2 separate regions of the Homo sapiens genome follow, and region 1 is linked to region 2. The links come from fine-mapping of genetic effects on gene expression. A gene starts in region 2. The other region holds a variant in brackets. All regions are shown on one strand. Distances are between the middles of the regions.

What was found.
Region 1: its variant is fine-mapped to the expression of TMEM8B in whole blood (INTERVAL, PIP above 0.99).

Annotation. Positions count from the first base shown.
Region 1 is chr9:35,773,839-35,779,210 of GRCh38, reverse strand. It overlaps a transcript of RGP1 not described here. Among named protein-coding and RNA genes, the nearest start is that of NPR2, 15 kb to the left of the region's middle. The variant C/T (reference allele first, on the strand shown) is at 2,789.
Region 2 is chr9:35,826,658-35,832,029 of GRCh38, reverse strand. TMEM8B (transmembrane protein 8B) reads right to left here and starts at 2,802. Exons shown (of 13, transcript NM_001042590.4): 1 at 2,075-2,802. The coding sequence starts at 2,582. It overlaps FAM221B (family with sequence similarity 221 member B), which reads left to right and starts at 3,298. Exons shown (of 7, transcript NM_001012446.4): 1 at 3,298-3,567. RefSeq lists an enhancer at 1,710-2,210 and a silencer at 2,496-2,945.

The DNA of each region.
Region 1 (5,372 bases), 53 kb after region 2:
GGAAGTTGCAGGGCCACTTCTGCTACCTCTTTGTAAGCCCTGGAGAGGAGCTCTGATCCAATTATTAGCAACTCTCTCTAGAACGTGCAGTATTTAGTCCTCTTTGTCCCAGCTTTGGACCCTAGTCACCAATTCCAGGGCAATAGAAAAAAACCTTACTCAACATCCTCTATAATATATTGAAATGAAGGGAAGGTTATATGAAATAAGGAGCTCAACTGCATTCCTCAATGGGGAAGCAAAGTCATCTTTTGAGTGACAGAAGGAACCAGGAGTTTGAAAGTTCAGGCAGAATAAAGAAGACAGAGATAGACTGGAGATAGAACATCAGATGAAAGCCATGTATACTCTCTTTTCCCCATTAAAATATAAAAAGCACATATACATATTATTCCACAACATTTTACATATCATTTCAGGTGCACGTGGATCTAGGAGCTAAAGGATCCCAGATTAACAAGCCTTGGGCTTAAGAGAAAGCAAACAGGAAGGCGAATGTGCATTATTTGTGCATTCGAGAGGAGGGAGTGGGTATGTAGGCAGGCAAAGCCAATGCACAAAAGGAAGGCTGGACATTTAGGGACTTGCATCCACCCAGAAGCCATCCATGTCAGACACCAGTTTGACATGTCATATTATATTCCAAAGTATTCTGACTGCTTGAACACTTTTGTATATTCAGCTTATTTTTCAGTATAATGTTGTGATACATCCTTCTACAGAGTTAATATGATTAATAATTGAGGGACTTTAGAGAAGGGGCCAGAAATTTAATTATGCTTTAAAACGTAGCTTTTGGACTGGAAACTGTTAACAGCGAATACCTCCCTGAAGGGGAACAAGGTATCTAAAGGGCAAGATGAAAGAGACAGTTTTTTCATTATCTATCATTTTGTATACCTTTTTTTGACACAGAATTTCGCTCTTGTTGCCCAGGCTGTAGAACAATGGCATGATCTTGGCTCACTGCAACCTCTGTCTCCCGGGTTCAAGTGATTCTCCTGCCTCAGCCTCCCGAGTAGCTGGGATTACAGGCATGCGCCACCACGCCCGGCCAATTTTTTTGTATTTTTAGTAGAGACGGGGTTTCTCCATGTTGATCAGGCTGGTCTCAAACTCCCGACCTCAGGTGATCTGCCCACCTCGGCTTCCCAAAGCGCTGGGATTACAGGCATGAGCCACCGCGCCTGGCCCATTTTGTATAGCTTTAATTTTGTAACAGGTGTGCAAGTATGACCTATTCAAAATTTTTAATTAAAAATGAATCTTAATCATAAACAAGAAAGCATAAAAATATGTCATTGATATGGGGTGCTTGATATCTTGAATGTTTTAAAGGATGGCAATGGGACCTCAAAGGGAAAGATGGGATTTCTTTTAATAGATAAACACACATGGTGAATCCCTCATAGCTGTAGCAAGGAGATTAAAAACATCAAAGGGCAGAACGGTAACATCAGAGCTAAGAAGGCTTTTCTGAAAACCAGTCATTTGGAACCAAAAGATAAAGTATTACAAAAAGTATAATCCAAGATCAGTAGGTCTGAAGAAGAAGAGTTAGAACTAGAACATCTTACAAGAAACAAGTACCAGGCTGGGCGCGTTGGCTCACACCTGTAATCCTAGCACTTTGGGAGGCCAAGATGGAAGGATCATTTGAGGCCAAAGTTTGAAACCAGCCTGGTCAACATAGCAAGACCCTATCTCTCTCTCTATATATATAAAAATAAATAAATGAAAGAAACAAGTACAAAAAAAAAAAAAACCACAAAACATGATTTAGGCCTGGCACAGTGGCTCACGCCTGTAATCCCAGCACTTTGGGAGGCTGAGGAGGGTGGATCACGAGGTCAGGAGATCGAGACCATCCTGGCTAACATAGTGAAACCCCATCTCTACTAAAAATACAAAAAATTAGCCAGGCATGGTGGTGGGCACCTGTAGTCCCAGCTACTGGGGAGGCTGAGGCAGGAGAAAGGTGTGAACCTGGGAGGCGGAGCTTGCAGTGAGCCAAGATCATGCCACCGCACTCCAGCCTGGGTGACAGAGCAAGACTCTGTCTCAAAAAAAAAAAAAAAAAAAAGAAAAACACCTGATTTAGATAACTTCATGTATAATGTCATAAAAACAAAGCTAAGATTGGTTGGGGTATATCTGGCCCAAGAATAAATTCAATTATTTTGATTTTCCACAAAGCAAATTTTTTTTTTTTTTTTGAGACAGAGTCTCACTCTGTCACCCAGGCTGGAGTGCAGTAGTGCCAGCTCGGCTCACTGGACGCTCCACCTCCCAGGTTCAAGCGATTCTCCTGCCTCAGCCTCCTGAGTAGCTGGGACTACAGTCGCCCGCCACCACGTCCGGCTAATTTTTTGTATTTTTAGTGGAGACGAGGTTTCACCGTGTTAGCCAGGATGGTCTCGATCTCCTGACCTCATGATCTGCTCACCTTGGCCTCCCAAAGTGCTGGGATTACAGGCGTGAACCACCGCGCCTGGCCCACAAAGCAAATCTTGATCAAACACTAGACAAGATGAACTGTAGGGCTGACTTAGACTCTTCCTTGAGGGCCAAGGATGACACTTTGAAAATAAAGAAATAAAATATTTATTTAGATGAGAATAGGGGGCCAGATGCGGTTGCTCATGCCTGTAATCCCAACAATTTGGGAGGCCGAGGGAGGTAGATCACCTGAGGTTAGGAGTTCAAGACCAGCCTAGCCAACATAATGAAACCCTGTCTCTACTGAAAATACAAAAATTAGCCAGGCATGGTGCAGACGCCCGTAATT[C/T]CAGCTACTCGGGAGGCTGAGGGCAGGAGAATTGATTGAACCCAGGAGGTGAAGGTTGCAGTGAACCGAGATCATACCACTGCGCCCCAGCCTGGATGACACAGCAAGACTCCATCTAAAAAAAAAAAAGAAGAAGAAGGAGAAGGAGAATAGGCCAAAAACAACAGGCATGATCTATATGACTGCAAAGGTTCCACATGAGTAGTCGTCATTGTCCTAAACACCTGCTGGGTCACCAAGAGAGAAAAACAGAGGAGTAATTTGATGCCAGCCTCTCCCACCAGTGACAGCTAAGAACACCTCCCACTACTGAGGGTAGCTAAACTGTCTAACAAAAAGGTCAAAGAAGTTTGCCTATCATCTGTGATTCAGAGGAAAACAAGAAAAGAGCATTACTGTTTTTTTCTTTCAAATCTAGGCCTTAAGCTAACCTGTTAGAGGTCAAATAAACAGGCTCCAAAATCCCCAGATTAAGACCTATTTGCAGTAACAATAAATGTAAAAGCACCTTGTATATTGTAAAGCATTATATAAATGTCCATTATTATGGTAATTATTAGGGGTCCGTCATATCCAAAATTGAACTACATCCCACCATCAGCAGTTTGGGACCATATTCTGGAAGAGTAAAGCAAAAATTTTTTTAAAAGAGTTTGCTTGTTTTTACACTGTGTAAAGGTTTTCAAATTTTTCATCTCTTCATTGAAAAGTCTAATAAGAAGAGCTGATCAGTAGTATATGACCAAAAAAGAGAAACTGTTCAACTTAGTTCAATATCCTTAAGAAGTGTACTAACTAGGAAGAGACAAACGCAAGCTTATGTGGAAGCGTGTGTAGTAAATGGTGGCGCTCCTTCCCATTCCCTCCACAGATGGCTTCCTGCTGAGCTCAGTCAGGGAGGCACTGGCAGAAAACTGAACGAGAGAAGCCAGACTATCTCTTCCCCTTCTCTCCCAGCCTTGGCCAGCATCTGGACAGGCACTCTTTGGCCCCAGCTTCCCTAGAACAGGCCCCCAAAGTTCCGGCTTCTAAGTTACCCTGCCCCTTGCACTTCCCCTCCTTCCCACAGCCTAGGGAGAATAGAAGGTTCGGTTGCTAATCTTCCCCTGCATTGCCTCACCTTCCCTTGAAAGGCTTCTCAGCTCTTCCACCATATTCACAGCCAGCTAATTCTCTGGATTAAATGCCCTCTGGTTTAAATGCTTAGAGTGAGTTCTGTTTTCCTGTTTGGACCCTAAATCTGGCAGCTAAACAAAAAAAAATGAATTTACTGCACTGAGGGCAAAGACCCTGGCTCCAAAACTGCCAAGTTCAAGGTTCACTGCTATCAGTGTGGGTCCATCCAGATGGAGTAATATAGAGGAGTGAAGAGACAGAACTGATTTCCCTTTTCTCCCAAAGGAACACAGGAGAGAAAATGAATTTGGAGAAAACAGAGAGAAAAGGGTATTATAAATTTCCTGCTTCCCAATCCTCGAGACAATATGGGGAGGAGGCTGCTGAAAAAGACAAGGATGTGACTGAAGCCCCCCCCACCAAAATTTGGGATGAGTCAAAGAGGGGAATTGACCTGTATAAAAACCAAAAACACTGAAAAGATTATAGTACTCCCCTCCTCCAAAAAAGAAATAAAAATAAAATCAATAAATTCAAATTTCCCCATAGTAACTATTTCCATGTTTTTTTTTGTTTTGTTTTTGAGACAGAGTCTTGCTCTGTCGCCCAGGATGGAATGCAGCGGCACAATCTCGGCTCACTGCAAGCTCCGCCTCCCGGGTTCACGCCACTCTCCTGCCTCAGCCTCCCCAGTAGCTGGGACTACAGGCGCCCGCCAACACGCCCGGCTATTTTGTATTTTTAGTAGAGACGGGGTTTCACCGTGTTAGCCAGGATGGTCTCTATCTCCTGACCTCGTGATCCACCCGCCTCAGCCTCCCAAAGTGCTGGGATTACAGGCGTGAGCCACCGCGCCCGGCCAAGTACTTCCATGTTTTTAAAAACACAGCAACATCCTTTCCTCCAAATCTATTTAGTACCACTGCTTTGCTGGGACCCTAAAGGCACACACTTAGTCTGCCTACCGGGTCATCCAGCAAAAGGCCTGTGCAGCCTGCCCTGACCAGAGCTGAGCACAGTCAGTCTCTCAGGGAGGGAGGCGTTTGCTGCCATGGGGGAGCAAGGTGCTGAGGCTGAGTCTCCTGAGGACCCAGCAGTGGTAGAACTGGGGTATGACCCCTTCAGAGTCCCATGTACATTCAACGAAAACCGGAATAACCCAGATTAACCATTCACTTCATTCAACCAACTTATAATAATTTTTGACTGTTTTAATGAAATTTATCATCAGAGAATAAAGTTTGTGCACCAATACACATTTTTTAAAGTGGCTATAAAACTGAAATAACAATGGATTGTTTTTTCACATATAAAAAGATCTTCAGAAATAATAATACGGGCCAGGTGTGGTGGCTCACACCTGCAACCCCAACACTGGGAGTCCAAGGCAGGAGGATTGCTTGAGCTCAGGAGTTCAAGACCAGCCTGGGCAACATAGCAAGACCCCATCTCTTTTATTTATTTTAAA
Region 2 (5,372 bases):
GGGACCACTAGACCCAAGAGATAACTTCCATTCCTGAAATGAAACCGAAGCAACCAATAAGCACTGTGCAGCCCTGTGCCATGATGGTCCTATGACACTGCCAGCCTCTCCTCAGACAAAACCCATCACCACCATTAGGTCACAGAGCACCCTGTACTTTGGTCCAAAATTGCCAAGGCATTCATTATTAACAGCACTAAAGGCAGCCCTGCCTCCATTTGGGTGTATTGGTACTCTTTTCCAACTTCATTACAATTCTCCCCAAAGCACCTGAACCTGCTTCTGGGCAACAGTGTTTTTATCCACAACTTTCAGCTGTATATGCTCTGTGGCTGTCGGTCACCCTGCTCCCCTCACCAGCCCAATGCTTGCTCAATGGGCACATGAAGAAGCCATGATGGCAGAGGATGGAAGCTAGGAACTTGGCCCAACAGCATAAACTTCCCCTTACCAAAACTGAAAACCTGACTGGCTACTGCCTCTGCCCAGTGTCCAATTTGCCAGCAGCAGTAATCAACACAGAGTGCCTCCACAGCTCCTTCCTTCAAAGGCACTGGCTGGGGATGGATGGATAACTTATATTCGTTATGGGAGGCATGCAACACTGCCCTCACCCTTGGAACTGCTGAGAAAGGGTCTCCAGCCCCATTCACAGCTTCAGTGATCTGTCCATATGAGGAGGAGGCAGAGCTGAAGAGGAATGTACATGGGCCACAACATGTCCCCTCCCCTTCATACCATAACACAGGCGCTCAGAAGATACACTGGCTCACATGCACCCCACACACATGCACGTGTCTACACTTAACAACACACAAGCATGTACACATGCTGCCAGCCTCCCCACAATCCCTCAGTTACACACATACACATAAGTGACCAGACATCTCTGCAGGGGTTGTGACCTTTCACGTGCATTCGTCTCCTTAAGTTTGTACACTGAACCAGGCCCCCAGAGCTCACTGATACCCATTCTCCACCCCCCAGCTGTTCTGTTGGCTGTTATTTCCAAAGACTCCATCAGGCACATCTCCATCCTATCTAGAGTGACACCCACCAGAGGTGGCTACAGACTTGGGCCATGAAGACTACAGTCACTCCATGATGGAGCCATCTTCATGGCACATCCCCTAGACCAGGACACCCCCTCCTCCTCCCACATTCCAACCATTAAAAAATTGGACCTCTCTCTCTTCTGTCCAAGTCACTTCCCCACCGGAGGGTGGCCCTTGGCTGACGCCTGGCAAATAAGGAACAGTTTGTGGATAAAGCACCCTTGTGGGCAGACCGGGGAGAAGGGAGGTTATGCTTTGAGCCTTTCCCCACTTGGGTCTATTTTTCTATTAAGTATACATTGCAGTGGATAAAAAAAAACACACTAGTATGAAATAGGAATTAGGAAACCTTTTTTCTAGCCCCAGCACACTGCCATTCACAAGCTCTCTGACTTTGGACAAATTGCTCCCTCCCTGAGCCTCAGTTTCCCCATCTGTAAAATAGCCTCCGAGTTTCAGCCCTGCTCTAAAAGTATCAGGAATTATTCCTAGGCAAATCAATCTTCTTTGGAACAAGAATCATTACAAGAAGAAAACTCATTATAATGGCAACTAATCCATATTCATCTATTTGCTACATATTATCTTTAAAACTCTTCTTCATGCCGTTTGAATGCATGCCCAATATCTCAAAGGTTTGGGCTATATATTCCCACACTACACTAGGGGCTTCTGGTGTGGGACTGTCTCTCCCCCATCAAACTTTGTGAGCAGGAGCAAAGCCCACAACATTTCCCTGGAAAAGCAAGAGTCAAAGTGGGGTCAGGACAGACACCAGAAAAAATCTTGGAGTCTCTGTGCTAGAAACTGTAAGCCACCTGCTGAGCCTCAAACCCAATTAATTACCACTCTTTTGACCCTGCCAATCCCTGTTGTGTAAGACCTCTCTACTCTCTATTTCTCCCACTTGCTCCCCAATGATCTAGTTCCCCAGGTCCCACCTCTCCTGAATCTCTCCAGCCCACCCCTCCCTGCCGGAACCCCATTCCTGCCTCAATCTTCCCTGCTTCTGCACTCACCAGCCCCTGGGCCAAGGACAGAGAACAGCAACAGCAGCAATAGGGCTGGCGGCAGCTGAAACCCAGACTTGAGTCTAGGCTGGGAGAGGGGCAGAGTATGAGAGATAGGGGGGACTAGAGGGAGAGACTTGGGTAAACACAGAGATGAGGGCAAAGGCTGAGATAATGGGTTGGGCTGGGCTGGACACTGGGGCTTGAACAAGGGCAGGGAGTGGGATGGAAGGAAGGGCTGTGATGGGGACTGCAGCAAGGGACGGGGTTGAGCCAGGGCCTTAAGCAAACACTGGGAATGGGGCTGGGACAGGGCCTGGGCTGGGATTTGTGACAGGGGGTGGAACGAGGGCCGAGGCCGGGATGGGGGCCAGGCCAGGGGCAGAGACTGGAAGGGGGTCCTGGATGGGGACCCAGGCAGGGGCTGGGGCCGATGTGGGAAGCGGGGCGAGGGCGGGGCTGGGGGCCAAGGCGGGGATTGGGATAGGACGAGGGGCCGGGACAAGGGCTGGGCCATGGCCCGGGGCGGGGGCGGGGCCGGACAGGCCAGCGCGGGGCGCTCGCAGAGCTGGCCCGCGGCTCCGCTCCCCACCCCCGGGGGGTGGCCTCCGGTGTCCTCGCGGGCCCGGGGCGGGGGCCGGGGACCTGGGTAGGAGTTCAGGCCTGGGCGACTCCGGGCTGCGCTGAACCGGCGATAACCAGGCCCCGCGGCGGCGGCCTCGACTTGACGTCGGCGTGACGCCCCGCCCCCCGGCCGGCTCGATTGGTCCCTGTCAGTAAAGCCCGCCCCCGCCCTACTCTATTGGTCCCCAACTTAGTCCTGCTGGGCTTCGAGGACACACAGACTCCGCCCCCGCCTCAGCTACCCGAGACCCTGCCTTTCTCACCCCAAGCACAGAGCCCGAGGTCCCCTCAGATCCTCACAGCCCCCAACGACCGCCCCACAGATGTCTCAAAGGAACCCTATCCTCACAATCCCAGACTCCCCCGGACGTACGCACAGATCTCCGCAGATCCTACCCAAACACTCGCTCACAGAGATCCCGCAACACACACCCCACTTTTCAGAAGTAAACCCTCTGGGCTCGCCCCCTCGAGGCCCAATGCAAGCCCCTCAGGAGACCTTACCCACCGGGGAGGTGACCAGACCGCCGTTGCCACGGAGACTACTAGGCGTTCCGGTTGCCCTGGTGACCGGCGCCTACTCTCCTGGCCCGGGTTCCGGAGGCTTCAGTCAAGACCCTCCCTCATTGGCCCTAGACCCCTTGTCCCTACCCACTTCCCCAGGTCATGCCAGAGCTCCTTTGCGAAGTTCTGCAGATATCCAAGTCCCCTTCCCAGATAGCAGACTTTCAGGCAAGGCATTTCAACACTCAGCACCTGCAGCTGAGGCACATCCACAACCAAGAGCCTTTCCTCCCTGAGGATCAACACCTCCCCCTGCCATCCTAAGTCAAGGTCTTGACCTAAGGACTTGTAACAACCAAGCCAAAGCCCAGAGGGTAGGTGGTTTCTCCAACGGCCCTTGCCCTCTTCCCTCAAAGACATCTGTCTTTCTCCCACCCCTCAGTCCCTTCACATTGTTGTAGTAGTAGTAGTAGTAGTAGTAGTAGTAGTAGTAGTAGTAGTAGTTGTTGTTGTTGTTGTTGTTGTTGTTGTTGTTGTTGTTGTTTGAGACAGAGTCTCGCTCTGTCCCCCAGGCTGGAGTGCAGTGGTGCGATCTGGGCTCACTGCAACCTCCGCCTCCCAGGTTCAAGTGATTTGCTTGCTTCAGCCTCCCCAGTAGCTGGGACTACAGGCGCCTGCCACCATGCCCAGCTAATTTTTGTATTTTTAGTAGAGACTGGGTTTCACCATGTTGGCCAGGCTGGTCTCGAACTCCTGACCTCAAGTGATCCACCCGCCTTGGCCTCCCAAATTCTGGGATTACTGGCATGAGCCACCATGCCTGGCCCACATTCTGTACTTTTCATCCTTACTCTCCTCCTCCACCCAATTTCCTCCTCCCCTTCTCTTTCCCCTTCCTCACCTCCCATCTTCTGGTTCTCCACTCTTAGGCCCCTTTTCTCTCTAGCTGACTCTGGTCATCTTCCTCCCTGTAATCCTACCTCTGCCCCTAATTCCCTTCCCAAACATCCCCTTCAAAAAGGCTCTGATGCATTTAAGGAGTGATATATCTAGCGTCTCTGGAACATGGGGGTAAAGTAGGGAGCACGGAAAGTTAAGGCAGGAATCCTCAGGCTGTGTTGAAAATGATGACAGGCCTTGAATGCCAGGGCCAAGAAATTTGGACTTAATCCTTTAGACTGAGTCATGGAATGTTTTTAAGCCACAAAGTGCCAGTTGTTGGGCTTGCACTTTAGAAAGATCCTGATTGGGTCAGGAAGGAGGACTACATCCTTGCAGGATAAATTAGGTATATCCCCCTCCCCACCGTATCCTAGACTCACCCCAGAACAACATCAATTTATTTGTATTGCCATTGTTGGTTAATCGGTCTCTCTCCTAGACTCAACTCAATCTAGAGCTTAGCACAGCGGGTCAGTAAAAGCATCAGATTAGGCTCATTGTAAAAGTATAAGTTACATAAATCCATGAAAGAATGGGTGAATGGATTAAAATGCTGTGGATGGAAGTAGAGGGGCAAAGTTATTACACAAAGGCTGAAGATGATGAGAACTTGAATAAAATTGGAAGGGAGAGGAGAGAATGCATTTGGGGAATATTTAGAAGATAGGAAATAGAGTTATTGGTGCCTATTTGAAGATGGAGTCTAAGGGAAAAGGAAAAGACTAGGATAATTCCCAAAGTTCAGTTTTGCTGTCTGTGGAAACACTCAGTTAGAAATGACCAGCAGGGGCCAAGCACGGTGGCTCACTCCTGTAATCTCAGCACTTTGGGAGGCCAAGCAGGGCAGATCACCTGAGGTCAGGAGTTCAAGACCAGCCTGACCAACATGGTGAAACCCCGTCTCTACTAAAAATATAAAACTTAGCCGGGCATGGTGGCACACGCCTGTAATTCCAGCTACTTGGGAGGCTGAGGCAGGAGAATCACTTGAACCCGGGAGGCGGAGGTTGCAGTGAACCGAGATTGCGCCACTGCACTCCAGTCTGGGCAACAGAGCGAGACTCCATCACAAAAAGAGAAGAGAAGAGAAGGCCAGCAGGCAGGTGGGTATGAGTGTGAAGTACAGAGGTTGAAAAAGGTCTGAGCTAGAAATGTGAATTTAGGAGTCATTGGTACACAACTGGAAGTAGTTAAAGCTTTGAACATGAATGACATCATTAAGGGAGGAGGATGTGTG